7 linked regions of the Homo sapiens genome follow. The protein of the gene in region 6 purifies or fractionates together with the protein of the main gene of each other region. This does not show direct contact. Each region holds a gene or a part of one and is shown on either strand. Other genes may lie near its edges.

Region 1 (3,500 bases), on a different chromosome or scaffold from region 6:
ACCAGTGAGATCTCAAAAAGTCATCTTGCCATAGCATAGATCTTTGCTCTGTCATTCCTCTGTTGATTAAAAACTTTCATTATTTGAAGATGCTTCAGGGCTTCCAAAAATGTAACCAACAACAGCAGCAGAGACAGTTTACATTTCCTGAGTGTTTATTCTCTATCAGGCCTTGTACTGGATGCTTCCCATGTATTACCTCATCTAAATCTCACAATAACTCTGAAAGGGAGGTTCTGTTTCATTTGTTTGTTTTTAATTTCTGTTTCCAAATGAGAAGAGCAAGGCTCAGACGGTTTAAATAACTTGCATAGGGTCACTCAGCTTGTAAGTGGCAGGCCCAGAAGTGGGGTCGGATCTGAGTTTTGTAGCCTGGGATAGAGCCCACCGCTCCTCCTCATCAACTGAAGTAGTCTCTTTTTATCTGTTTTGCAAATGGGGCCTCTGCCTCAGTTTTCTTTGGAGCCAGGGGTTTGTGGCTAAAGAAGAATTTGAAAACTCCAGGCCTGTAGAGTATATTTGACTGGGATGTACCCTTTTCAGCTTCATGCTGTCCCTCCACTACATCTCCCACTGTGCTTCCCAAAATGCACTTTGCATTCTTCTGCAGCTAACAAGTTACTGTGCATCCATAAGGCGGTTTCCAAATCTCAAGATAGAAGTGTTGTGTTTTCTGTATGCTCCTTCCGCAGTAGATACTAGCAACAGTCATCCTCTTTCTACGTAGTGGCTGACAAGTTTGTCTCCACCACTAGTCTGAGCCTCTGGAAAAGGTGGGCCAGGTCTGCCTCTTCTGGAGCTCCTTGGTCTGGCCCAAGAACTGGCACAGAGCGTAGGAGGCTCAGTCAGTGCTTGATGGGTGAATGCACATCAACTTAAAGTGGGTACTCAGAACTAACCAGCTGAGTTCAGAAGCCTGGAATACAAACTCTAGTGCATACTCACAGAAACCCAGGAATGCAAGGTGGAGATGATCAGATGTATTAATCACATTTGGAAAAGAATGAAAATATTTCCATAATAAAATATGTTTATTTTCTAAAACAGATATGCCCTCATTGTTTCATGAGGAAGTAATTAAACATGTTTGATTAAAACATTCATAAACACTATCATTTATTCAAGGCTACTATATATGCTGCTCTCTTTATTGGTACTTTATCTGTTGTGTCTGCTTCTCCTAATCCTCCTGTAAGGTGTCTTTTTAAATCTTCATTTTAGAGATAAGGAAACTGAGGCTCACAGAGATTAAGTAACTTGCCCAAGGATAGTCAGCTTCTGAGCAATAGATACAGGTATGAACCTAGTCTGTCTGACTTCAAAACCAGTGCCTTGCCATCACCCTAACTGCTTCTGATCTTGTATTTTAGATACCTTTCAGCTCAGTACCCTGAACCAGCACACACATGCCCTTCTCCCCCTCAGCCCTCCCTGTGTCCAGCATGGTTTGTCTTCCTCCCTCCCTTTCTCCCTTCTCACTGCACTCCACTCTCCATTTCCTTGTAGTATCTTTTTGATTATTGCCTCTTTGCATCCTGAAATGGAAATATTTTTGACAATGTCAGTGATTGGACACGATTACATGTGGAAACTGGTGTTAATAGTGTGGTAATGTCACATTTGCATTAATAAATACAAAGTAATACATTTTATTAAGGCCAAATTACCTATATTATGATTTTGTTTTCTTTCTGTAGCCTTTAATTCTTAAGATTTTTTTGAGTCTCATTTTATATTTTTTAATGTATGTTTTTTCCTCCATTTAAAATATAACATTGTAGTGAAAAGAAAAGTTGATCAGATAATTTTTTTTCTTTGATTAAGCATTTTCTAAACAGTGAGATACCTATTTGAAATTATGTGAAATGCAATATTGAAATACTTCAGTATGTTCTTTTTGGAGAAGTTTATGAGGTTTCTTAAAGACTTAGATTCATTTATTTTCTGCCCCTCTTAGTATTTCAGCAGGATTAAGTTCTTGAATCAGTGGATCAAGTTTTAATTTTCCTGTTCCTTCCTTATACTGACATATGCTTTGGCAGAACAAAAAAGAGACCTAAACATGTCAGCATGATTTTTGTTCAATGAATTAAAAACCATAAAAGTAACAAGATCTGATCCAAATCCCTAAACTCCTGACATGGTGGTTTTGTGCTTTTTAGTCCCAAGCTTCATATTACTGACTTTGAAGAGCTTTCTGCCTGGAAGCAGAAGTAATGGCAGCAGTGCATAATTTACTTGAAATAGATTACAAGAGTAAAAAGAATACAGGCCAGAAAGATCGGGGTTTGAATCCCAGTTCTCTCACTCATGCTCATGGGCAAGTCACTTAACATCTGTGAGCCTGTTTCCTCATTTGAAGAGTTGTGAGGATTCAATGAAGTAACACACTTAAAGTACTCATGTGGCATAGAACGGTTTAATAATAGTAGTAATTAGACTCATTGTTGTTTTGAGAATACCTTCAAATAGCTGAATCCAAAAGGATTTACGTAAATACAACTGTTCACTTCAGAGCTTATTCTTTCTCAAAATTCTTTAATTTTTTTTCTCAGCAGAGAAAATGTAAGGTAGATGTTACTAAATCTTTAACAGCTGCTCATCACTATTCCACACTGAACATGTACCCAGAACTTAGGATTGTCCTTCCTTGAGCAAGAACCGTGTTGATTTGAGAGTAAGGAAGCATAAGCATGTCCATTTCAGGACCCAGGGGGCAGAGGAATGCTGTCATACTAAGACCATTGGCTTTTGTGACAGGCCAGCTTGGGTTTGACTGGGTCTGACTTTGTATAAGGTACCAAATTTCTTTGGGCCTCATTTTCTTCATCTGTAAAACGTGGTTCGTGACCTTGCAAGACTGTCTGTGATATGGCTTCCCAGCCTCTTTTCTTGTCACTCCTTTCTTTGTTATCAGTGCTCCAGCCAATTCCTTAAATGAAGCATGGGCTCTTGATGGTTTTGTCCTTTTCAGTCCCAAGCTTCATATTACTGACTGTGAAGAGCTTTCTGCCTGGAAGCAGAAGTAATGGCAGCAGTGCATGATTTACTTGAAATAGATTAGAAGAGTAGCAGAAAGAATACAGGCCAGAAATATTGGGATTTGAATCCCAGTTCTCTCACTGGGAAGTTTGGTACCTTCTACAAAGTCAAACCCAGTTTGCCCATGTTTGGGCAACTTAAAGCCTTTATACATGCGTTTTCCTCCTCCTGGAAATTCCAGGAGTTCAGCCCACAGAGAGGAAAGTTACAAACTGCTGAACTGGTTGACAGAGTGATGTTAAATTCTTGGCCAGCAGTTAATGTATAGAATGATTTTGTTGAATGTCTTTTGTCTTTTATCAGAGTAACCAGAGAGCACAGAGAAATGCTGGTGAAACTGGCCAAACAGAACACCAACAAGGCCAAAGACTCTTTACGGAAGGTTCGCACCAACTCAATGAACAAGCTGAAGAAATCCAAGGATACAGTCTCAGAGGACACCATTAGGCTAATAGAGA
Region 2 (3,500 bases), on a different chromosome or scaffold from region 6:
GCCTAGGAAAACCAGAGACCTTTGTTCACTTGTTTATCTGCTGACCTTCCCTCCACTATTGTCCCATGACCCTGCCAAATCCCCCTCTGTGAGAAACACCCAAGAATTATCAATAAAAAAATAAATTAAAAAAAAAAAAAAGAATAGTTGTATTAATGGGAAAAACTAGGGTTTGGCAGTGGATTCCTCTTGATGCAAGTGTCACAACATGATTTGCTATTATACTGATTTTTAAAACTATTAGTCTGTTCTCACATTGCTATAAAGAACTACCTGAGACTGGGTAATTCATAAAGAAAAGAGGTTTAATTGACTGGCAGTTCTGCAGGTTGTACAGGAAACTTGTCTGGGGAGGCCTCAGGAGACTTACAAGTATGATAGAAGTCAAAGGGGAAGCAGACATGTCTTTCATGGCCGGAGAAGGAAGAAGAGAGAAGGGGGAGGTGTTACATATTTTTAAACAACCAGATCTTGTGAGAACTCACTCTCTGTCACAGGAACAGCAAGGGAAGTCTGCCCTTGTGATCCAGTCACCTCCCACAAGGCCCCTCTTCCACCATTGAAAATTACAATTTGATATGAGATTTGGGCAAGGACAGAAATTTAAACCATATTATATATCAAGTCATGAACAGTGTCCAGGAAAAGATATTGACAGCCTATCACTTGATAAAGTGGCAGAATTAATCTATGTTATCCCTCTGAGCATCACATGCTGATAGTTACCTGAGAGCTATAATTCCATTCCAAGTTCTAGGTTAGTGTACTCAGATTTCTGTCATTCCCTTAAAATACATTTTTACTTACTGCTAGTGCATATATTTGAAATTTTACAGACTTTAAAATTTATTGAACATAAGCCATAAAGTCATCAAGGAACCCCTTTAGTTATGTATATAAATGTAGAAATAAGCCTTTGGGAATAGTGAGTTAAAACTACAAGCTCTTGGGAAGACATTACCTTATTCATGTTGGGCAGAGATGTAAGAATGAAATAAGTCATGTAGTTACCCTTCTATTACTGTTTTTTTTTTATACATGTGTACACAAAGCAAGTTTCCCAATATAACTCCTAAAAATAGAGTGTGCCACCAGGCACACACCCTTACTGTGTCCTAAAATACATGAATTTCTCCTATTCCATTTTTGGCTTGGAGCAAGTGAGTTGACTGCCATTCTTTGAAAAAGCTGTCATTGAATAGTTTAATACAGTGCTTTAATTGTGATACATACCAGTAATAGTGCCATAAACATGGGAATCTGGGTCAGAAAAGGAAGTAAACCCATTATAGCTATTTCAGAGTTGTCTGTTTCTTTTCATTTGCAGATTTTTTAAAGGCATTATTCCTATAGGTTGATTGATATTTGCAGATTTGTATATATATGTTAAAGTGTGTATGTGGAAATATGTGTAAGTGTATATGTTAAGTGTTTATATATATAAAAAGTGGCGCATGGGAGGTAGGCATTCAGGGCCTTATAATTAGAAAATATCAAAGAAGATATATGTTTATTACCTAGGGCTTTATGTAAAATCAATGGTAGAGAGCACTTAAAATTGAAGCTTATATTTTTTGGTCTTTAACAATCATAGGTCTCCAGTAAATATAAAAAATGCTTCTTAGGGCAACTAAAACTAAGCAAGTAGTACGTGATAATGAGTCTGTACCATCCCTACCCCCTAGTCATCAACTTCCCCTTCAGAGAGATAATTTATTTTAGGTTTGGTCTTTATTCTTCCAAATCTTTTCCTTTTTTCTTTTTCTTTTTTTTTTTTTTTTGAGACACGGTCTGCCTCTGTCACCGAGGCTGGAGTGCAGTGGCACGATCACAGCTTACTCTGTAGCCTTGAGCTCCTGGGCTCAAGTAATCCTCCAGCCTCAGCCTCCCAAGTAGCTAGGACTACAGGCATTTACTGCCATACCTGGCTAATTTTTTATTTTTAAGAGACAGGGTCTCCCTGTGTTGCCCAGGCTGGTCTTGAACTCCTGGGCTCAAGCAGTCCTCTGGCCTTGGTCTCCCAAAGTGCTGGGATTACAGACTTTAGCCACTGTGCCTGGCCTCGTCCAAATCTTTTCTATGAGTTTACACACTTGCAGTCTTGAACAAAATTTTAAAGAGAAAGTACCTCAAGAAAGTGAGCATTGGTTCAAAAAACAAAAACAAACAACCCACCAGTATATATGAAAGTTATCACAGAGGAATAAAACATCCCTGTAGTACTTTTCATAATATATTCTTAATCTTAAAACATTAAATGTGACTCTTTTTAGAAATCTTGGGGGAGAAAATATGCCTACAGTGCTTATTTTCCTGCTTTTCCTGGTAATTGCCTAATATCTTGGTGAGAAGTACTGACTCCAGAACAAACCAGTGGAGAACAATAGAACTCCTCTGAGAGTTACTTAGCAGCTCACTCTATGATTTGAAAAAAATGATTGTTACATGACATTTCATCCATAAGAACAAGCCCATTTCTAGTTCTGGCACTGTATGACATGTTCTCTTTGAATCTCAGTTGGCATTAATGACTATGCTGGTAGTATTCATGTGTCCCTTGTGAGGCTGTGAACAATCTCCCATTACTTGCCTGCCAGAGCAGCCTTCGTGCTTTGGTGGGAGTCATTTCCAAATCTAATTTTCTGTTCATATTGCAATTTAAAGAACGTTTAGATAGAAAAAAAAGGGCCCAGGCTTCACAAAGAATTTCAATTTACATCAACGATTTGAACAAAAGCTTCAGATAATATAAGTGAAAATACTAAAATTGGGGCAGAGTTAAAGATGTTCTGGCATGTCATCAGTTGGGAAACAACCATGGCATAGTATAGAAAATTTCAGGAGTGAGACCTAGCTGTGTATGGAGAGAGCTCTATCACTGATTTCACTGGGACCTGGGGCGAGCTGCCTCATCTTCCTTGGAGTTAGTTACCTTATATTTAAAATCAGGAGAAAAGGGAAAAAAACTTCACTTTTGTAATAGTTTAAAATGTTACAATGGAACTATGAAACTGATAGTTCTGCATATCTTAAAAGGCAGTTAGAAACTCAGAAAAAAATCTGATTCCCAAATAGACTCTTCAGATAGTTTTATCTTCATGATCATGTCTCTGTGGTTCCACCTTTCTGAAAACAGTCTTCAGTAACTTAAGAAATCATTTCAACTTCCATGATCTTCAGTAGCAGCAGCATGAATGACACATGCCAAGAGACTAAATGGAATGAGATAAGCCTGTCTTTCAGAGACATCATCTATTTCCTGCTGCTGTCCAGACAGGAAAGTCAGACTCCATTTTTCCCCTTTGTAAAGTTGACTTGAGCTACATGAAGCACTTGTTAGAACAGTCCAATTCAAGATAATTGTGCTTTATGACTGCATTCAGAATCACATGTGTACCCACTGTGTGTGTGGGGGGTGTGTGTATGTGTGTGCATGTGTGTGGGTGGGTGGGTGGAGGGGGTGTGTGTGGGTAGGTGGGTGGTGGGGGTGTGTGTGTATG
Region 3 (3,500 bases), on a different chromosome or scaffold from region 6:
CCAGAAACCATGATTACGTAAACTAAAAATCCTACACAGAAAACTAATGACCATAAGCAAAGTCAACGAACTAGGAAATAAAATATTTTATTTATATGTTATTAAACATAATATTTTATCTTTACATTTTAATAAAGCTCTGTCCATATTGAAAGAAAATCAGTAATAAAAAGACTGCCAACCAAGTAGAAAAGTGTTGAAGGCCATGAACAGGGAGTTCTCAAAATAAGACATATAAATAGGTTTATGAACATGAAATAGTTTTCAACCTCAGTCATAAAAAACAAGTCAGATTTAAAATAACCATTTTTTACACTTTAAATTGAGAAAAATCAAAAGATTTGACAAGAATTAATAAGAATATAGAGTAGCATATACCTTCTTACACCACTGGTAAAAGTTTAAAATGCTATGTCTTTAGAAGGCAGTTTGACAGTCTAACAAACGTAAATGCACATACCTTTTGACTCAGCAATCGCACTTCTGTGTGTGACTTGTAAAACATACAGGGAGTACTAAAACTATTCAAAGGAATAAAGTAGAGCTTTGTGTGGTGGTATGTGTCAATATCCAAGACATGTTATTAAGTGAAAAAGGCAAGGTGCAGAACAGTAAATGCATACAGTCTGCCGCCACGAGTAAAGAAAACAAAAGATTATATTTACATTTATACTTGTGCACAGAAATTTTCTAGGAGGATACACTAATGTTAGCTGCCATGGGGAGGTAAACTGAGGAGTTCAGGCTGGAAGAATTTACCAAATAGATGCTTACTTTCCAACAAAAAGAAAATAAGACACCTGAAGCAAAAAAGCAAACCAACGGATAATTTAAAAGTTATAAAGTTTGCTATTGTTAGAGAAGTTTTTGCTGGATATAGTACTTGTTTACATTGTTTTAGGGAACTTTATTATATGTTCAAAAACAAACGAAGTAGTCAGATGACCTCTTAAGACTTCCAACTCAGCTTCGGTGATTGTCAATTTAGGCAACAATATCCACTTACATTAAAAGTAAATGTCTGCTGGGCGCGGTGGCTCACGCTTGTAATCCCAGCGCTTTGGGAGGCTGAGGCTGGCAGATCACCTGAGGTCAGGAGTTCAAGACCAACAGGGCCAACATGGTTGAAACCCCATCTCCACTAAAAATACAAGCAAATTAGCTAGGCGTGTTGGCGGGTGCCTATAATCCCAGCTATAGGGGAGGCTGAGGTGGGAGGATTGCTTGAACCCAGGAAGCAGAGGCTACAGTGAGCCAAGATCATGCCACTGCACTCCAGTCTGGGCAACAGACCGAGACTCCCTCTCAAAAAAAAAAAAAAATTGATAGATAAATATTTGTTTTAGGCTCATGTACACATTACCCACAGTTGTTCTTTTTCCCAATTATAGGGGTTCCAATTTCATCTGCTGTTGCAGGCGTAGCAATAGGATTGGTCACCAAAACCGATCCTGAGAAGGGTGAAATAGAAGATTATCGTTTGCTGACAGATATTTTGGCAAGTATATTCTCGGTTTCAAATATTTAATAATGAAGACTAAAAATAAATAAATAAAAATTAAAAGATAAAAACAAATAATGGTGAAGACTATATGTACTTTGCACCTAGCGTATGCTTAGAAGAATGCTAGTATTTGAAGAACAGGTACTTGTTCTTCCCTTCCTCCTCTGCATGTTCACCTTGTATCTTATAGGATATGAATTTAAAATAGATATTATATTAATAGTAATAGGCCAGGCACAGTGACTCATGCCTGTAATCCCAGCACTTTGGGAAGTCAGGAGTTCCAGACCAGTCTGGCTAATGTGGCAAAACTCCATCTCTACTAAAAATACAAAAATTAGCCTGGGCATGGTGGCACACACCTGTAATCCCATCTACTTGGCAGGCTGAGGCAGAATTGCTTGAACCCGGGAGGCAGAGGTTGCAGTGAGCCAAGATCGTGCCACTGCACTCCATCCTGGGCAACAGAGCAAGACTGTGTCTCAAAATAAGTAAAATAAAATAAAATAAAATGATTACTTTAAAAAAATAGTAATACTTACCCTTAAGTATTGCAGTAATACTTACACAGTGTAAGTATTCATAATGACTCACTTTAGGATGAGCATAAATTCATTCTCAGGCATTTATGAGGGAAAGGAATGATCTAAAAATAAAATGATGTTTCTGGTGAAAATAATTGTAGCTTAAAAAGTCACAAATTGGAAGTGGTAGTTAATGTAGAAAACATTGCTTTGTGTTTGGACTTAGGATATGGTTTACTTCTAAAGCTGTTTTTTGAAATGTTTCTACAGTGAATATGTTGACTTTTGTTTTTGTTTAAAACTATGTCATAACTTTTTAAATTCCTGAAGGGAATTGAAGATTACAATGGTGACATGGACTTCAAAATAGCTGGCACTAATAAAGGAATAACTGCATTACAGGTATTTTTAAAACCCATTTTGTTTCATTTTTGTAACATTTAAATAATGCCATGAGTCAATATTTATATAATTGTTTGACTTTTCCATATTAGGCTGATATTAAATTACCTGGAATACCAATAAAAATTGTGATGGAGGCTATTCAACAAGCTTCAGGTGAGCTAGTGTGCTTGATTCTCCCTTCATTCTTTTCCACTTTGCTAATGGGAACTATAGTTCTCATTAGGCTTATTATAAAATATTGCTTTAAAAAGTGGAATTTCATATAACTTAGATCAAGAAGTACTGGCCAGGTGTGGTGGCTCATGTCTGTAATCCCAGCACTTTGAGAGGCCGAGGCAGGCAGATCACTTCAGGTCAGGAGTTCGAGACCAGCCTGGCCAACATGGTGAAACCCTGTCTCTACTAAAAGTACAAAAATTAGCCGGGCATGGTGGTGCATACCTGTAATCCCAGCTACTCAGGAGGCTGAGACAAGAGAATCGCTTGAGCCCAGGAGGCAGAGGTTACAGTGAGCCGAGATCATGCCATTGCGCGCCAGCCTGGGTGACAGAGGGAAAATGTCTCAAAAAAAAAGAAGTACTAAGTAGCCAGGCATGGCATGGTGGCTCATCCTAGCACTTTGGGAGGCCAAGGCAGGAAGATTGCTTGAGCCCCAGGAGTTCAAGACCAGCCTGGGCAACGTAGTGAGATCCCATATCTATTTTAAAAAAAGAAGAAGCACAACTAAGTTTTTGGGACACATGAATACACGCCAAAGTGGGTTACCAGTGAAATTTCAATTTTTACAAATTAAACAACTCTATTTAAGATGGGATTTTTGGAGAAGAGAATATGAGTGAATTTTCAAGGTAATAGGGATGTGGAAAGCTTCAATTATTAAGCTACAGGGTTTAGATTGTATACCGTGAAAACTAAGAGTACAGTATTTCAGATCATATTTGTTTTATGTAGTTATAATTTTTGTGTTTTTCTCTTCTAGTGGCAAAAAAGGAGATATTACAGATCATGAACAAAACTATTTCAAAACCTCGAGCATCTAGAAAAGAAAATGGACCTGTTGTAGGTAA
Region 4 (3,500 bases), on a different chromosome or scaffold from region 6:
AAACATAATTTATTGGAATATTGAGGACAACATATGTTCTTTAAACATTGTGCACACAAATTTTTTCAGTCGTCTTACGTTCATTTTACTTTTCTCAAACTGTAGAGTTGCCGATTTCTAAGTTTTTATGTGATTTAGTTTTAGTTACCTGATTCTTTCTAAAGGTGTTGTAATCCTGGTTATTTCACAAGTGCTATAATATACCTCAGCAGCCTAGAACTAATTCTGCAAACCTTTTCTACAGAATTTAAGATTTTATTCATGTGCATGGCATAGAAGATGAATTCTTCCACTTCCACCATGAGTGAAGAGCCTGACGCTCTATCGGTAGTTAACCAGTTACGGGATCTAGCAGCAGATCCGTTAAACAGAAGAGCCATCGTCCAGGATCAGGGATGTCTGCCTGGCCTTATTTTATTTATGGACCATCCCAACCCTCCAGTCGTCCACTCCGCTTTGCTTGTAAGTTGCCTTTAGTAATTTCAATCTCTGTTCTATTTTTGCAGTTAAGGTGAGAATTTGGAAAAAGTGCTAGATGACAAGGTAAAAAAACGGAAAGAGAGCAATTAGTTGTTTGTATTTATGTAGGTACAAACATATGTATGTGTGGTCTGTGGTCTGTTTACACCAGTGGTAACATGCTACATTGTTTTTATTCTTTATTTTTTTTTTTTTGAGTCATCTAGGCCTGGAGTACACTGTGGCAGGATCTTAGTTCACTGCAATCTCCACCTCCTGGGCTTAAACCATCCCCCCGACCTCAGCCTCCCAAGTAGCTGGGATGATAGGCACACACCACCATGCCAGCCAAATTTTTGATATTTTGTAGAGATAGGGTTTCGCCATGTTGGCCAGGCTCAAACTCCTGAGCTCAAGTGATCCTTCCACTTTGGCCTCCCAAAGTGTTGGAATTACAGCTGTGAGTCACCATGGCCAGCCTTGTTTTTATTCTTTTATACAAATTGTTGCATACTCCATGCATGGAATGTCCTACCACTTCCTTTTCATTTAACAATCTTGAGGATTGGATCATATCATACACAGAGACACTCAAAGAGGCACTTATTTTGTTTTTATTTTATAACAGCTTTTTAAGATGTAAGCACACAGCATCATATAATTCACTCATTTAAAGTATACAATTAAGTGATTTTAGTATATTCACAGAGTTGTGTGTCACCATCACCACAACTTTTTATTTTTATTTATTATAAATAAATTTTTTTTTTTTTTTTTAGTAGAGATAGGATGTAGCTATGTTAACTAGGCTGGTCTCAAACTCCTGGCCTCAAGTGATTCTTCTACCTCGAGCTCTCAAAGTGCTTAGATTACAGATGTGAGCCACTGTGCCCGGCCCACCACAACTTTTTATCTATTGCTTCCCAGACCCCAACACTCCCTGTCCCTAAGCAACTACTAATCTACTTTTTGTATGTCTATATTTGCCTATTCTGGCAAAAATGCCTATATATTTTGCATATAAATAGGGCCAGACGTGGTGGCTCACTCCTGTAATCCTAGCACTTTGGGAGGCCGAGGTGGGTGGATCACCTGAGGTCAGGAGTTTGACACCAGCTTGGCCAACGTAGTGAAACCCTGTCTGTACTAAAAATACAAAACAATTAGCCGGGCGTGGTGGTGGGTGCCTGAAATCCCAGCTACTCAGGAGGCTGAGGCAGGAGAATCCCTTGAACCCAGGAGGCAGAGGTTGCAGTGAGCCAAGATTGTGCCATTGCACTCGAGCCTGGGCAACAAGAGTGAAACTCCGTCTCAAAAAAAAAAAAAAAAAAGTTGTTAAAAAAATTAATGTTTTGGAAATTTTATCTATTGCCCTTTACTTAAGGACTCGTGATGATTCCCCATTTAGTCTAATTTCACAAGTTTGTACAGAAGGCATATAGACTTTTCCTTTTGGAAAAAAATTTCTATTTTGCCTTTACAGAATGAAGTTTAGCAGTCAAAAAAGACATTGGTGTAAGAGAACAGTAGTAACAAATGGGAAAAATGGCACAGTCCCCAGTCTGGGTTCAATTTCAATAAGAAATGCAAGAAGGATGAGAAGAAAGAGGGGGTTGATCTATAGATAGGGACTTGGGGCTAAAGGAAGTAAGTCTTTTTTATTTTTAAATAGACTAGAATATGTCTAAGTTCAGAGGGCAAGGGCTACTAGAATGGGAGAGGTTTGAGGGGAAGGCTCTCATAATTGCAGAAAATAGGAAAGATTTGCTAACTGAGGAGAATGATAAAGTTGTTCAGCAGTGTTGAGGGCTGATTAGTTTGGTAATACTGAATCGATATGATTCAGGCCTGTTGTAGGCTCACAGAGCCAAGTACTTGGATTTGTCTAGAGTTGTTACTTGGCCAGGTTAAGTTGGGCAGAATGATTGTGCAAGGGAGTTTAGGATCTTGGCAGGATTGGTTGAAATGATATACAGTAGATACTAGGCTGAATAGGAAGGGAAGTATAAAGTCATGGAGGGACAGAGCTAAGGAGAGGGATCAGTGAGTGAAAGTTCCCAAGAGGCTGAAGAAAAGATTTTTTTGTTGTTGTTTTTGAGACAGAGTTTTTGCTCTTGCCACCCAGGCTGGAGAGCAATGGCACAATCTTGGCTCACTGCAACCTCCGCCTCCTGGGTTCAAGCGATTCTCCTGCCTCAGCCTTCTGAGTAGCTAGAATTACAGGCCCGCACCATCACATGTGGCTAATTTTTGTATTTTTAGTAGAGACGGTTTTTCACCATGTTGGCCAGGCTAGTCTCGAACTCATGACCTCAGGTGATCTGCCTGTCTTGGCCTCTCAAAGTGCTGAAATTACAGGTGTGAGCCACCATGCCTGGCCATTGGGTGTGTTGTTTTTATGATTTCCTTTTTTCGTCACTGTTAGCTTATTAGTATACACTTTTGTTTTTATTTTAATTTATTTAGTGGTTGCTGTAGGTTTTACAATATGCATCTTTAACTTCTTACAGCCTACCTTTAAATGAATCATACCCTTAACATGTAGTGTAAGAATCACACAAGAGTATATTTCCATTTCTTTCTCCCATCTTTTGTGCTATTTTTGTCATACATTTTACTTCTACATATGTTTAAAAACCTACAGTGTATATATTTTTGCCTTAAACAGTCAATTATCTTTTAAAGAGATTAAAAATTTAAAAATGTCTTTTTTTTTTTTTGAGATGGAGTCTTGCTCTGTCACCTAGGCTGGAGTGCAGTGGCGCAATCTCAGCTCACTGCAACCTCTGCCTCCCGGGTTCAAATGATTCTTCTGCCTCAGCCTCCCTAGCAGCTGAGATTACAGGTGCATGTCAGCATGCCTGGCTAATTTTTGTATTTTTAGTAGAGACAGGGTTTCGCCATGTTGGCCAGGCTGGTCTTGAACTCCTGAGTTCAGGTGATCTGCCCCCCTCAGCTTCCCAAGGTACTGAGATTATAGGCGTGAGCCACCATGCCTAGCAAAAAAAGGTCTTTTATATTTACCTTCATTTTTACATTTC
Region 5 (3,500 bases), on a different chromosome or scaffold from region 6:
GCACCTTAGAAATTTCTCTATCTATCATTTTAAGAAAATCCACCGGCCTGCTGCGTCGCCATGCTTCTGCAGCTGGTCCAGGGACAGAGCTTCGAGTGGGCTGGCCCAGCCTCATTTCCCCCATCAACCCCATTAATTTTTTTGTATGGGTTTGCAGAAACGCGGTTTTTATGGAGGCATGGCACAGCACTGTAGGAGAAATGGCAACCTGTGTTGCTTTGAACTCTCTTACCTTGTTATTCGTAGGTGACTGTTAGTTACACTTGCAAAAGCCAAATGAAACACTGTCATGATTTTATAGTTCCATCTCTTGTTAAAATTGGAAAACCACTAAACTCTACCTATTGAAAGTAAGTAAAGGTAATTTTTTGAGTTGAAAAAGAAAGAAAGAAAAAGAGAAAAAAAGAACCTGGAGCAAAAAGAATTAAGTGCCTTTACTAGGATGAAAAGTCATGAATTACGGGCTTGTGATGACAGGATTTCAGTTTTCATTTGAATCAGTTAAATTATCATGCAAATTGATGCAAAACTGAGATCCATTTATTCATTGAATTAAAAAGGCTGGAAGGAATAAATAGACGAGGTTAGAAGAAAATATGTTGCTTGATTGAATGAATTCACTACTTTGCACTGTGTCTTGCAGTATGGTATTTGGAAGTCAACTGGATATCCATTCAGGTGGGATAGATTTAGCTTTTCCACATCATGAAAACGAAATTGCACAGTGCGAAGTCTTTCATCAGTGCGAGCAGTGGGGAAATTATTTTCTGCATTCTGGTAAGTAATAACTTCAGATTAATTTGTTCTGTTTCAATTCTAGCAGTTCTGTCTTTGTCGGCGGAACAGCTACATTTGGAAATACATAGTAGATCAGCTAATAGGTCAAGAAATGGATTTGCCTCTTAAATTATTTTTGAGTTTCAATCATTTGAACATGAGCTTCCTTGGATTGCAGCAATGATTATACCTTTTTGGAACTGACTAGAATATGGAAAATGTTTGGCAATGCTGTTCTATATAAGGTTTCTTTCAAGTAAAACTATTAAGAAGGAACTTGAAGTAGTACAATGTAACGATAATTATGAACATCCTTTCTGAAGCTATAATGTTGTCACTAGACATCTCTGCCATCTTCTAATAACATTGCCCTTTCTTCCACTGTTCAAACACCTAACTGATGAACCCCAGCTGTCTGCTCTCAGAAGTGGATGCAACACCATGAGTTAAGCAACACCTCGAACCCAGCAGTTTTGGAATTCACTTGGATGCACTGGAAGAGTCGTATTTCCAAGTTTACAGGGTCACGATTAACTAGTCTTATTACCTTTTGGGGATGGACAGCTAAGGTATTTGAGATGAAGAAAGATAAAGAGTGTTTGGTAGTGATAGGATTTGGAGATGCAAACTTCGACATCTAAAATACAGAAAATTAACAAATACTATCTTTTGAAGTCCTTGAATTGGGAAATTAGGATGTCACAGTAAAGTGACATTAAGTGCAGAAGTGCTCTGGTTTTCTGGTCCGCAGCAGAGTTCACTTGGGTTTCTTCGTGAAAGTACATGAGGCTGATTGCCCCGAAGTCACTTCCTGCAGCATGTCCTTCACCCCGGGCTTACCCTGTTGAGTCGGGGAACCCAGCAGGCGGCTCTGCCCCTACCATTACCTACTATGTCTGCCTCTCACAGTGCCCCAGTTTTTGTCTAAAAATGAAGCAGAAACAAAGCTGGCTGCGTGGCTGTTTGAGGACTTAGGAGCTGTTGTCCAGCACCCCATACCATTTCCCTGGGGAGGGCTCAGCACTAGCTGAAATCCACTTTATTCCGGTGTCGGTGGAGTTTCTAATCAGAACAAACGCCTGCCGCCCTCACTTCCGTTTCAGCTGGCGCTCACATGGGAAGGGGGTGCACGCTGCCCAGTGGTGGAATATTTAAGGCATCGCCCCTCAGGGAGCCGAGCACTGATTTCCACAGCCGGGGGCCTGCACTCCACTTTTGACCATGGGGAAGGAGGTCTCTCTTCCGTGGCCCAAGGACTTCTGAATTGTGTTCTTGGAGAGGAAGCGTGCTGGGAGCCCAGATAGTGGGGCTGAGACACTGTGTCTCAGGCACAGAGGTAGTCGTGTCCCTTGTCCCAGATGAAGAAAGATAAAGAGTGTTTGGTAGTGATAGATTTGGAGATGCAAACTTTGACATCTGAAATACAGGAAATTAACAAATACTAGTTTTTGAAACCCTTGAATTGGGAAATTAAGATGTCACAGTAAGGTGACATTAAATGCAGAAGTGCTCCGGTTTTCTGGTCCGCAGCAGGGTTCACTTGGGTTTCTTCATGAAAGTAAATAGATGAGGCTGATTGCCCCGAAGTCACTTCCTCGTTGACTTCGTTCAGGGCTCAGTTCAGCGCTCCCTGAACTGTCTGAGGAGCTGGAGTTGCTCCCTCCGCAGGCACGTTTCTGTCTGCAGGTTTATCCTGTTCAGTAGGTCAGGGTTTGTTACTGACAACCATGACCTGCTGTGAGCCCTTCTGCGAGTGTGGAGCTGGGGGGCAAGAAGGGCAGCCTTAGCTGTGCCAACGCTTCGTCCTGTCAGGTAATGAGGAGGGGCCGGGTCTAGAAACGGAGGTCGTGTTCACCTTCCGATGTGGGAATGGGAAAGCATTTGCTGTTGTTGTTGAAACAATTTCGCTCCGTCCCCCAGCCTGGGAGTGCAGTGGCACTATCTGAGCTCACCGCAACCTCTGCCTCCTGGGTTCAAGCAATTCTCCTGCCTCAGCTGTTCTAGTAGCTGCGACTACAGGTGCATACCACCATACCCAGCTAATTTTTGTATTTTTAGTAGAAGCAGGGTTTCACCATGTTGGCCAGGCTGGGCTCAAACCCCTGACCTCAAGTGATCTGCCACCTCTGCCTCCCAAAGTGCTGGGATTATAGGCGTGAGCCACTGCACGTGGTGGGAAAGTTTTGTGGCTATTTTTCAGTGATTTTTTACTACCTGTTAAGATACCAGCGATCTTTTTCATACTAGTTTGGCCCCAAACAAAACATCAGTGTCTCCTGACGCAGGAGAAGTGACACCTGTTCTCCTGTACCCAGTGGATGGAAGAGCTAAGTGGGCAGACACTATCCCAGCCTGTTAGGGCTGCTATAGCCAAACTGAAAGCGGGCGTGTTATGAACAACAGCAATGAATTCCTCACAGTTCTGCTGGCTGGGAGTCCTGCGTCAGCGCACTGGCAGACTCGGTGTCTCGGGAGGGCCTGCTTCCCATTTGTAGACGGCCGTCAGCTCTCGAGGGGCCTCTGTTATGAGAGCACTGATTCCATTCACACTGGCTCTGCCCCTGTGACCTCATCACCTCCCACAGGCCCTGCCTTCAGTTACCGTCACCTGAGGGCTGAGGATTTTGACAGGAATTTGGGAGGACATAAACATTCAGGCCTTAGCAAATGTGTTTTATTTTCCAACTATCATCAATTTTAAAAAATCAGAATCGTGCTTGGTG
Region 6 (2,651 bases):
GAAAGGTAGGTGGTGTCATCTCTATTTTAAAGGTGAGGAAACAAAGGCTTGATAAATTTAGTAAATGAGATTATGTCATTGAGTCACTTGCCCGAGGTCATATAGTCAGTAAATAGGCAGAACTGAGACCTGAGTCACACATACTTGTGTCACCACAACCTATACAACCTATGTTTGTTGTTTTTTTTGTTTTTTTTGTTTTTGGAGAGAGTCTTGTTCCCAGGATGGACTGCAATGGTACGATCTCGGCTCACTGCAACCTCCGCTTCCTGGGTTCAAGTGATTCTCCTGCCTCAGCCTCCTGATTAGTTGGGATTACAGGTGCACACCACCACGCCCAGCTGATTTTTGTATTTTTAGTAGAAACAGGGTTTCATCCATGTTGGCCAGGCTGGTCTTGAATTCCTGACCTCAGGTGATCTACCCGCTTCAGCCTCCCAAAGTGCTGGGATTACAGACGTGAGCCACTACACCCGGCCTGTTTTTAAGTACCAGAGTGCCTGGCACATAGTTGGTGCTTCATAAAGGTATTCTTCACTTCCCCCACTCCCGCTCTCCTGCCCCATACCCCTTTTCCTCTTTCTACAAAAACTGAAAATGGTATCTCTTCATCTTACTGCATATCCTATGTAAATGCAAAGGGACTGTCTTCCAAACTGGGCCTCTTCTGTGCATATTTTGGTACCATCACAGACATCACAATTTGTTGGTGTGTTGGTTTTTTGTTTTTGCTTTAATAGGAAAACTGGGAGAAAACATGATTCTTAAACGAGCTGCATGGGTGAAGGTGCCATCTGGGTTCTACGTTGGCTCTTATGTCCACGGAGCAATGCAGAGTCCCTCACTTCACAAGCTGGTGCTGGGGAAGTATGGGGCCCTGGTCATCTGTGAGACGTCTGAACAGAAAACAAACCTTGAAGACGTTGGCCGCCGCCTTGGGCAGCATGTGGTGGGCATGGCCCCCCTCTCTGTTGGCTCCCTGGACGATGAGCCTGGGGGAGAGGCAGAGACTAAGATGCTGTCCCAGCCGTATTTGCTGGATCCCTCCATTACCTTGGGGCAGTATGTGCAGCCTCAGGGGGTGTCGGTAGTAGACTTTGTGCGGTTTGAATGTGGAGAAGGTGAAGAGGCAGCAGAAACTGAATAGGTTCCAGAGACTTTTGGCCCAGGAGGAATATTTACTTTTAGCTCTGGACATCATTACAAAAAGGAATATTTCCCAAACCTCTTCAGACCGAGAATGCATGGGTAAAATTATTAAATAGTTGTATAATAAAAATAATTTTTTCCTTGTTTGCGTAATACTGGATTTAGCTTTTCTGTGCCTTTCAAAAACAACAGGTGGGCCTTATTGACGTGATAGTGTCGTGGAGAACAGGCATCAACAATACTGCTGCTCCCTTCAACATAGATTTATTATGGTATTTCTGAAATTTCTAACTTATATGTTCTGTCTTACACCTTTTATGACATAGAACTCTTTTGTTCTGTTTTTGCTTTGCGACACTGTGAACCGTGCTTCTGCCTCGGAACCTCCCTAGTTATATTACTTGTGCCACATGGATTTCTTTAGGATTATTGATTCAAACCTAGAGTTGTCTGGAAAATGTGGGTTCTCTTCTTTGTGATTGTCTGTAGTATGCTTTGAAGGTGCTCTGCAGTGGTAGACACACTGGTTCTGGCCTCATTTAATGAAATTAATAACACATGCCCCTATTTCTCTTTTGGATGATGTGTGGGTGGGTGGGTACTGAGGTTTCCTGGCCAGCTGTAAGGCAGATTTTGACATTCTTGTGCCAGAAACAGAAATTAGAGTAGTCCAGTTACCCAGAGAGCTCACTTAACATTGCCTCTTTACTTCCCCAGTACTGAAACATTTCTTCAAGTATAACATAAAATTACCGTAACAAGCAGACCCAGAATACTGAAAATAACTCCATTTGTTCATTATAGGTATCTTTATTTGAAAAGTGAAAAATGCTTTGACACATTACAGATCTGGGTATTTGGATTTTGCCTATGGAGTGCATATATGATTTCAATGATTTACAGGCTAAATAGATTTTAGAAATAATCATCTTAAAATTGAAAACAAAGGTAGGTCCTGGTATAATATTAAACATAAAGTTATTAAACATTTTAAGCATTGTTTTTTGGTTCTCTTTCTTTTGATTTCTCCAGATTTATGCAGTTTTAGTGCTTTCTGCTGAGGCTTTAGCTAGAGGGCCACAAAACCCAAAAACTATATGGTTAACATTTTAGGTATATAACAAGCAAGGAATGCAAGGATGAGAAAAAATGGAGAACATGCCGTGATTTGCAGACTCTATTATATCTAAATTAAGTAGCTGAATGTCAGGCAGAAATTGGTGGATAAATTATTTCCTGATATTGGCACTATCTGCTCTTTTCTGTGGCCTTGCAATAGGTATAGGCCTTCTTGCTTTAGAAAAGCCCCTTTTCTTTCTTCATTTGGAGCTGTTTCCAGCCAGGCAGAGCTGCAAATTGCCCTCTTGTGATGCCAAACACAGACACAAAGTCCTGTTCAGAGAGGTAATTCTAAGAGAGAAAACAAAGTTTCTAGTTAGAAGGAAGACATGACATCATTGCCAACAGAAGTTGAGGAAGTTGGAGCAAGAGGGAGTTCTAGG
Region 7 (3,500 bases), on a different chromosome or scaffold from region 6:
AAAACATAATAATCTTGCGGTGGGAGGATTCCTAGACAAAATACAACACTCAGAAGCCATAATGAAGAGACAGATATGGCTATGTAAAAGATGTAAACTTCTGTGCAATCAAAGGCACCATCAACAAACCTAAGAGATAAGCAAGAAATTAAAATATTAGCAACATACAACAAGCAAAGGGCGAATCCTTTGTCAGGCAGAATTAAAAGATATAATTAATATATCCATAATACATAAAAGGTATTTGTGATTCATAAGAAAACAAAAATAACCCAATAGAAAATGAACAAAATTATGAAGGGGTAATTTTTAGAAGAAATGCAAATGGCTACTAAACATGAAAATATGTTCACTTTCAGAAGTAATCAAAGAACTGCAAATTAAAGCTAGATACTATTTTTCATTAATCAAATTGGCGAAAATTAAAATGACTAATAATATCTACTGTTGGAAGATATGGGAAAATGAACATTCTCATATACTGTGGATATAAATTTTTACTACACCTTCAGAGAACAATTTAAAAATATATGTCAAGATGTAAAATATTCATGTGTGTTAACCCAGCAATTTCACCTATTTATCTTTAAAAAACATTTTTAGAAATCTATTTATTTATTTGGAGACCAAGTTATAAGACTGGCTAACTTTTGTGTCTTTGATAGAGGCAGGGTTTCACCATGTTGCCAAGGCTGGTCTTGAACTCCTGGGCTCCAGTGATCCACCCACCTTGGCCTCCCAAAGTGCTGGGATTATAGGTTATGCCACGGCACTCGGCCTCACCTATTTTATCTTACAAATAAACTCTCAAGTGTAAAAAACAGACTACAAGAATGTTCACTGTAGCATTACCTGAAAGAGTTAAAAACTAAGAAAAACTTCAGTAGGAAAATGGTTTCTATAAAAAGAATTTGGACTGCATTAGCAACAGCCTCTTACAGCAGTAAAATTCGATGATGGGTTAAACAATTTAACTAGCATTGACTTACAAATCGAGTCATTCATATGTCCCATGAAATAACACAGGATTTAAAAGAATGAGACAGTTCTATATTTGTCTAGAGACAAATATATTGTTAAGTAAAAATAGTAAGTTACTGAAAATACATATAGCATCACCCCCTATGTAAACAAAAGGGTATTTAAATAGCAAAAGTATTTATTGCGCAATTACTGCGCCAGGTACTAAATGCTTTGTATGAATTAATCTTATATAATCTTTGCAATAATCCTATAAGACAAGAATAATTCCCATGTTCATTTTACAGAAAAGGAAACTGTGGCATAAAGACATTAATAAACTTGTCAAAAATCATAGTTATTCAATAGGATAGTAGAGTCAAGATTCAAATGCAAATAGTCCAATTCCAGAATCCATTATTTTAACCACTATACTTAATACTGCTTCCAAAAAGAAGTTGCTGTCAGTTACTTCATCAGTAAAATACATAATTCTTGCCCATTCAGAGACTAAACATAGTTTTAAAAAATCTTTTTCAACAACCTAACTGCCTACTAACAGAATAATGGCTAGATATTGGTATAGATGTAGAATGAAATACATACATTTAAAATGTAGGACTAGAATTGCAAACATTACATCAAAAACAAAAAGTTGCATAAAAATAGAATTTTGGACTGGTATAAACTTTGATACCACTCTTAAAAGTTTTAAAATCTGCAAAACAATATCCCATTTATGTATAAAACTGGCATGGGATAATATAAATGCTCAATTCATGACAACAATTACCACTGGTGAGAAAGGAAGAAGAATGGGATCCAGGAAAGGGACCAGTAGACCTCAATTTATTTAAGGCAAGTAACTGAAGCACAAAGTTAAAATTTAGTAAAACCAAGTTGTGGGTATAGGGATGTTCACCACATTAGCCTTTTTTGTTATCTTCGTGTTTGAATTATTTCCCAATAAAGTAAATAATTTTTAAAGCTCCACAGGCGATGCCAATGTACTGCCAGTTTGGAGAGAGAGAAAAAATTCAATTTCAAATGCTAGTCTAGGCATCTTCTTTTTGATCCTTATAAAGCATCCAGGCCCTGTGACTGATAAATTCTAATCTATTTTTTCCCCAACATCTACTTCCAGTCTTTTGGAAATTAATTCAGAGTATAATGTAATCTACAATCTTTGCATGTATCTTTGTCAACATCTACCCTATGGAACATAAATTCCTAGAAAACAGAAAAAAATCTTATTTTCTTAATCTCCCATTGCTAGGTGACCATGTGCCATGGTTTCCCACCTGCTTTCCTGGCAAAATTATTAATAGTGTTCCCTTTCACTTTCGAAAGTGTCCCACCAGTTTGGATGGTAAGTTGCATAGTCAGCCCATCCACTGCAATAACTTATGATAGACATGACTGCTCATCTTCTCAGCATTGCTACATATAACTCAAAAAACATCATAGTACTTTGCTTTTCACTTTCTAAAACTTACCCCTCTTACACATTAACAGGTACTTTTGAACTGCTTCAAAAGCTAAAGAATTTATATGATTTTTCCATTTGTATCACTTTATCAGGGGGAAATTCAGAAAAGATAATTTGTTTTAAAAATAATGCCTACAGTTGAGGCTTTATATTACTCTGCCCTCAAAAAAACTCCAGAATATAACTAGAATCTTGTACAGTAATTTAAATAACACTCAAAGAAGAATATGAATCTAAAAATGGTAAATAGTAAGCACAAGGTATACAATTTTTTTGACCCAGAACATATTATTTTCTTAATGTAGATCAATTATGGGTCTTTAAAAAAGACTGTTTCCTTATGTTTTCATTTTCACAGTTCAAAATTATTTAAACTGTTAAGTTCAAATAAAAGACAACAGACATATTACCTGCATTTAAATCATTTACTGGCACTTGCAAAGTAGCTGCAACTTTTTTTAAAATGTTCTGCATTTCTGGTCCAGTTTTGAAGGCTTCCACGTGATAAAGAGCTGTAGCATTTTTTTCTACTTCAGTTAAAAACTTCTCACAGTGATCAAAAAATCTCATTAGTTTATCATTAACTGTTGGAGGTCCAAACTCCATATCTGAAAGAGAAAAAAATTTATATGTATTTGTAAATCACTGACATAAATGACAGTTTCAAATTATTGAAAATGTTAAGTGTGAAAAAGGAACACTAACATCTTACTAATCCGCACAGCTGAAATAAGCACATATTGGTCAGGAAACTCTTGGGGTAAAATTATTCCCCATTTATAATGGCTGTAACGCATGAGAATAGCTAGAAAAGGCTAAAGAAATAGAGATTGAAGATTAAATGTGTTGTAGAGATGCTACGCAATGAAATTGCATCATACATTAATAAGTACTGTTTCTGTCAGGCACGGAAAACTTTAGAAAGCAAACTAAAAATCAGCAAAGTTTCTACTTACAAGGTGAGAGAGAATTCAACATATGGAATCTATTTTTTCACTCTAAGCCAAAGTCTAAACAGAGTATTTTATTTTCTCAATTAACCTTCCCAACT

The links.
Region 1: the proteins of TSFM (region 6) and MRRF fractionate together in Homo sapiens (co-fractionation; one large-scale study listed by BioGRID). This does not show direct contact.
Region 2: the proteins of TSFM (region 6) and CLIC4 fractionate together in Homo sapiens (co-fractionation; one large-scale study listed by BioGRID). This does not show direct contact.
Region 3: the proteins of TSFM (region 6) and PNPT1 fractionate together in Homo sapiens (co-fractionation; one large-scale study listed by BioGRID). This does not show direct contact.
Region 4: the proteins of TSFM (region 6) and ARMC1 fractionate together in Homo sapiens (co-fractionation; one large-scale study listed by BioGRID). This does not show direct contact.
Region 5: the proteins of TSFM (region 6) and CARS2 fractionate together in Homo sapiens (co-fractionation; one large-scale study listed by BioGRID). This does not show direct contact.
Region 7: the proteins of TSFM (region 6) and MINPP1 fractionate together in Homo sapiens (co-fractionation; one large-scale study listed by BioGRID). This does not show direct contact.

Annotation. Positions count from the first base shown.
Region 1 is NC_000009.12:122,309,882-122,313,381, forward strand, and holds part of MRRF (ribosome-recycling factor, mitochondrial isoform 1 precursor), read left to right. Parts: intron 1-3,345; coding exon 3,346-3,500. UniProt on the Homo sapiens protein: Responsible for the disassembly of ribosomes from messenger RNA at the termination of mitochondrial protein biosynthesis. Acts in collaboration with GFM2. Promotes mitochondrial ribosome recycling by dissolution of intersubunit contacts.
Region 2 is NC_000001.11:24,800,947-24,804,446, forward strand, and holds part of CLIC4 (chloride intracellular channel protein 4), read left to right. Parts: intron 1-3,500. UniProt on the Homo sapiens protein: In the soluble state, catalyzes glutaredoxin-like thiol disulfide exchange reactions with reduced glutathione as electron donor. Can insert into membranes and form voltage-dependent multi-ion conductive channels.
Region 3 is NC_000002.12:55,645,345-55,648,844, reverse strand, and holds part of PNPT1 (polyribonucleotide nucleotidyltransferase 1, mitochondrial precursor), read left to right. Parts: intron 1-1,391; coding exon 1,392-1,498; exon of another isoform or gene 1,499-1,572; intron 1,573-2,358; coding exon 2,359-2,430; intron 2,431-2,522; coding exon 2,523-2,586; intron 2,587-3,412; coding exon 3,413-3,496; intron 3,497-3,500. UniProt on the Homo sapiens protein: RNA-binding protein implicated in numerous RNA metabolic processes. Catalyzes the phosphorolysis of single-stranded polyribonucleotides processively in the 3'-to-5' direction. Mitochondrial intermembrane factor with RNA-processing exoribonulease activity.
Region 4 is NC_000008.11:65,624,178-65,627,677, reverse strand, and holds part of ARMC1 (armadillo repeat-containing protein 1), read left to right. Parts: intron 1-244; 5' UTR 245-279; coding exon 280-462; intron 463-3,500.
Region 5 is NC_000013.11:110,664,617-110,668,116, reverse strand, and holds part of CARS2 (probable cysteine--tRNA ligase, mitochondrial), read left to right. Parts: intron 1-643; coding exon 644-777; intron 778-1,188; coding exon of another isoform or gene 1,189-1,346; exon of another isoform or gene 1,347-2,589; intron 2,590-3,500. UniProt on the Homo sapiens protein: Mitochondrial cysteine-specific aminoacyl-tRNA synthetase that catalyzes the ATP-dependent ligation of cysteine to tRNA(Cys). In addition to its role as an aminoacyl-tRNA synthetase, has also cysteine persulfide synthase activity.
Region 6 is NC_000012.12:57,795,437-57,798,087, forward strand, and holds the end of TSFM (elongation factor Ts, mitochondrial isoform 2 precursor), read left to right. Parts: intron 1-740; coding exon 741-1,147; 3' UTR 1,148-2,151; downstream 2,152-2,651. Other genes in the region: AVIL (advillin), read right to left, coding at 2,446-2,559. UniProt on the Homo sapiens protein: Associates with the EF-Tu.GDP complex and induces the exchange of GDP to GTP. It remains bound to the aminoacyl-tRNA.EF-Tu.GTP complex up to the GTP hydrolysis stage on the ribosome.
Region 7 is NC_000010.11:87,507,893-87,511,392, reverse strand, and holds part of MINPP1 (multiple inositol polyphosphate phosphatase 1 isoform 1 precursor), read right to left. Parts: exon of another isoform or gene 3,189-3,500; coding exon of another isoform or gene 3,155-3,188; intron 3,058-3,154; coding exon 2,860-3,057; intron 1-2,859. UniProt on the Homo sapiens protein: Multiple inositol polyphosphate phosphatase that hydrolyzes 1D-myo-inositol 1,3,4,5,6-pentakisphosphate (InsP5[2OH]) and 1D-myo-inositol hexakisphosphate (InsP6) to a range of less phosphorylated inositol phosphates.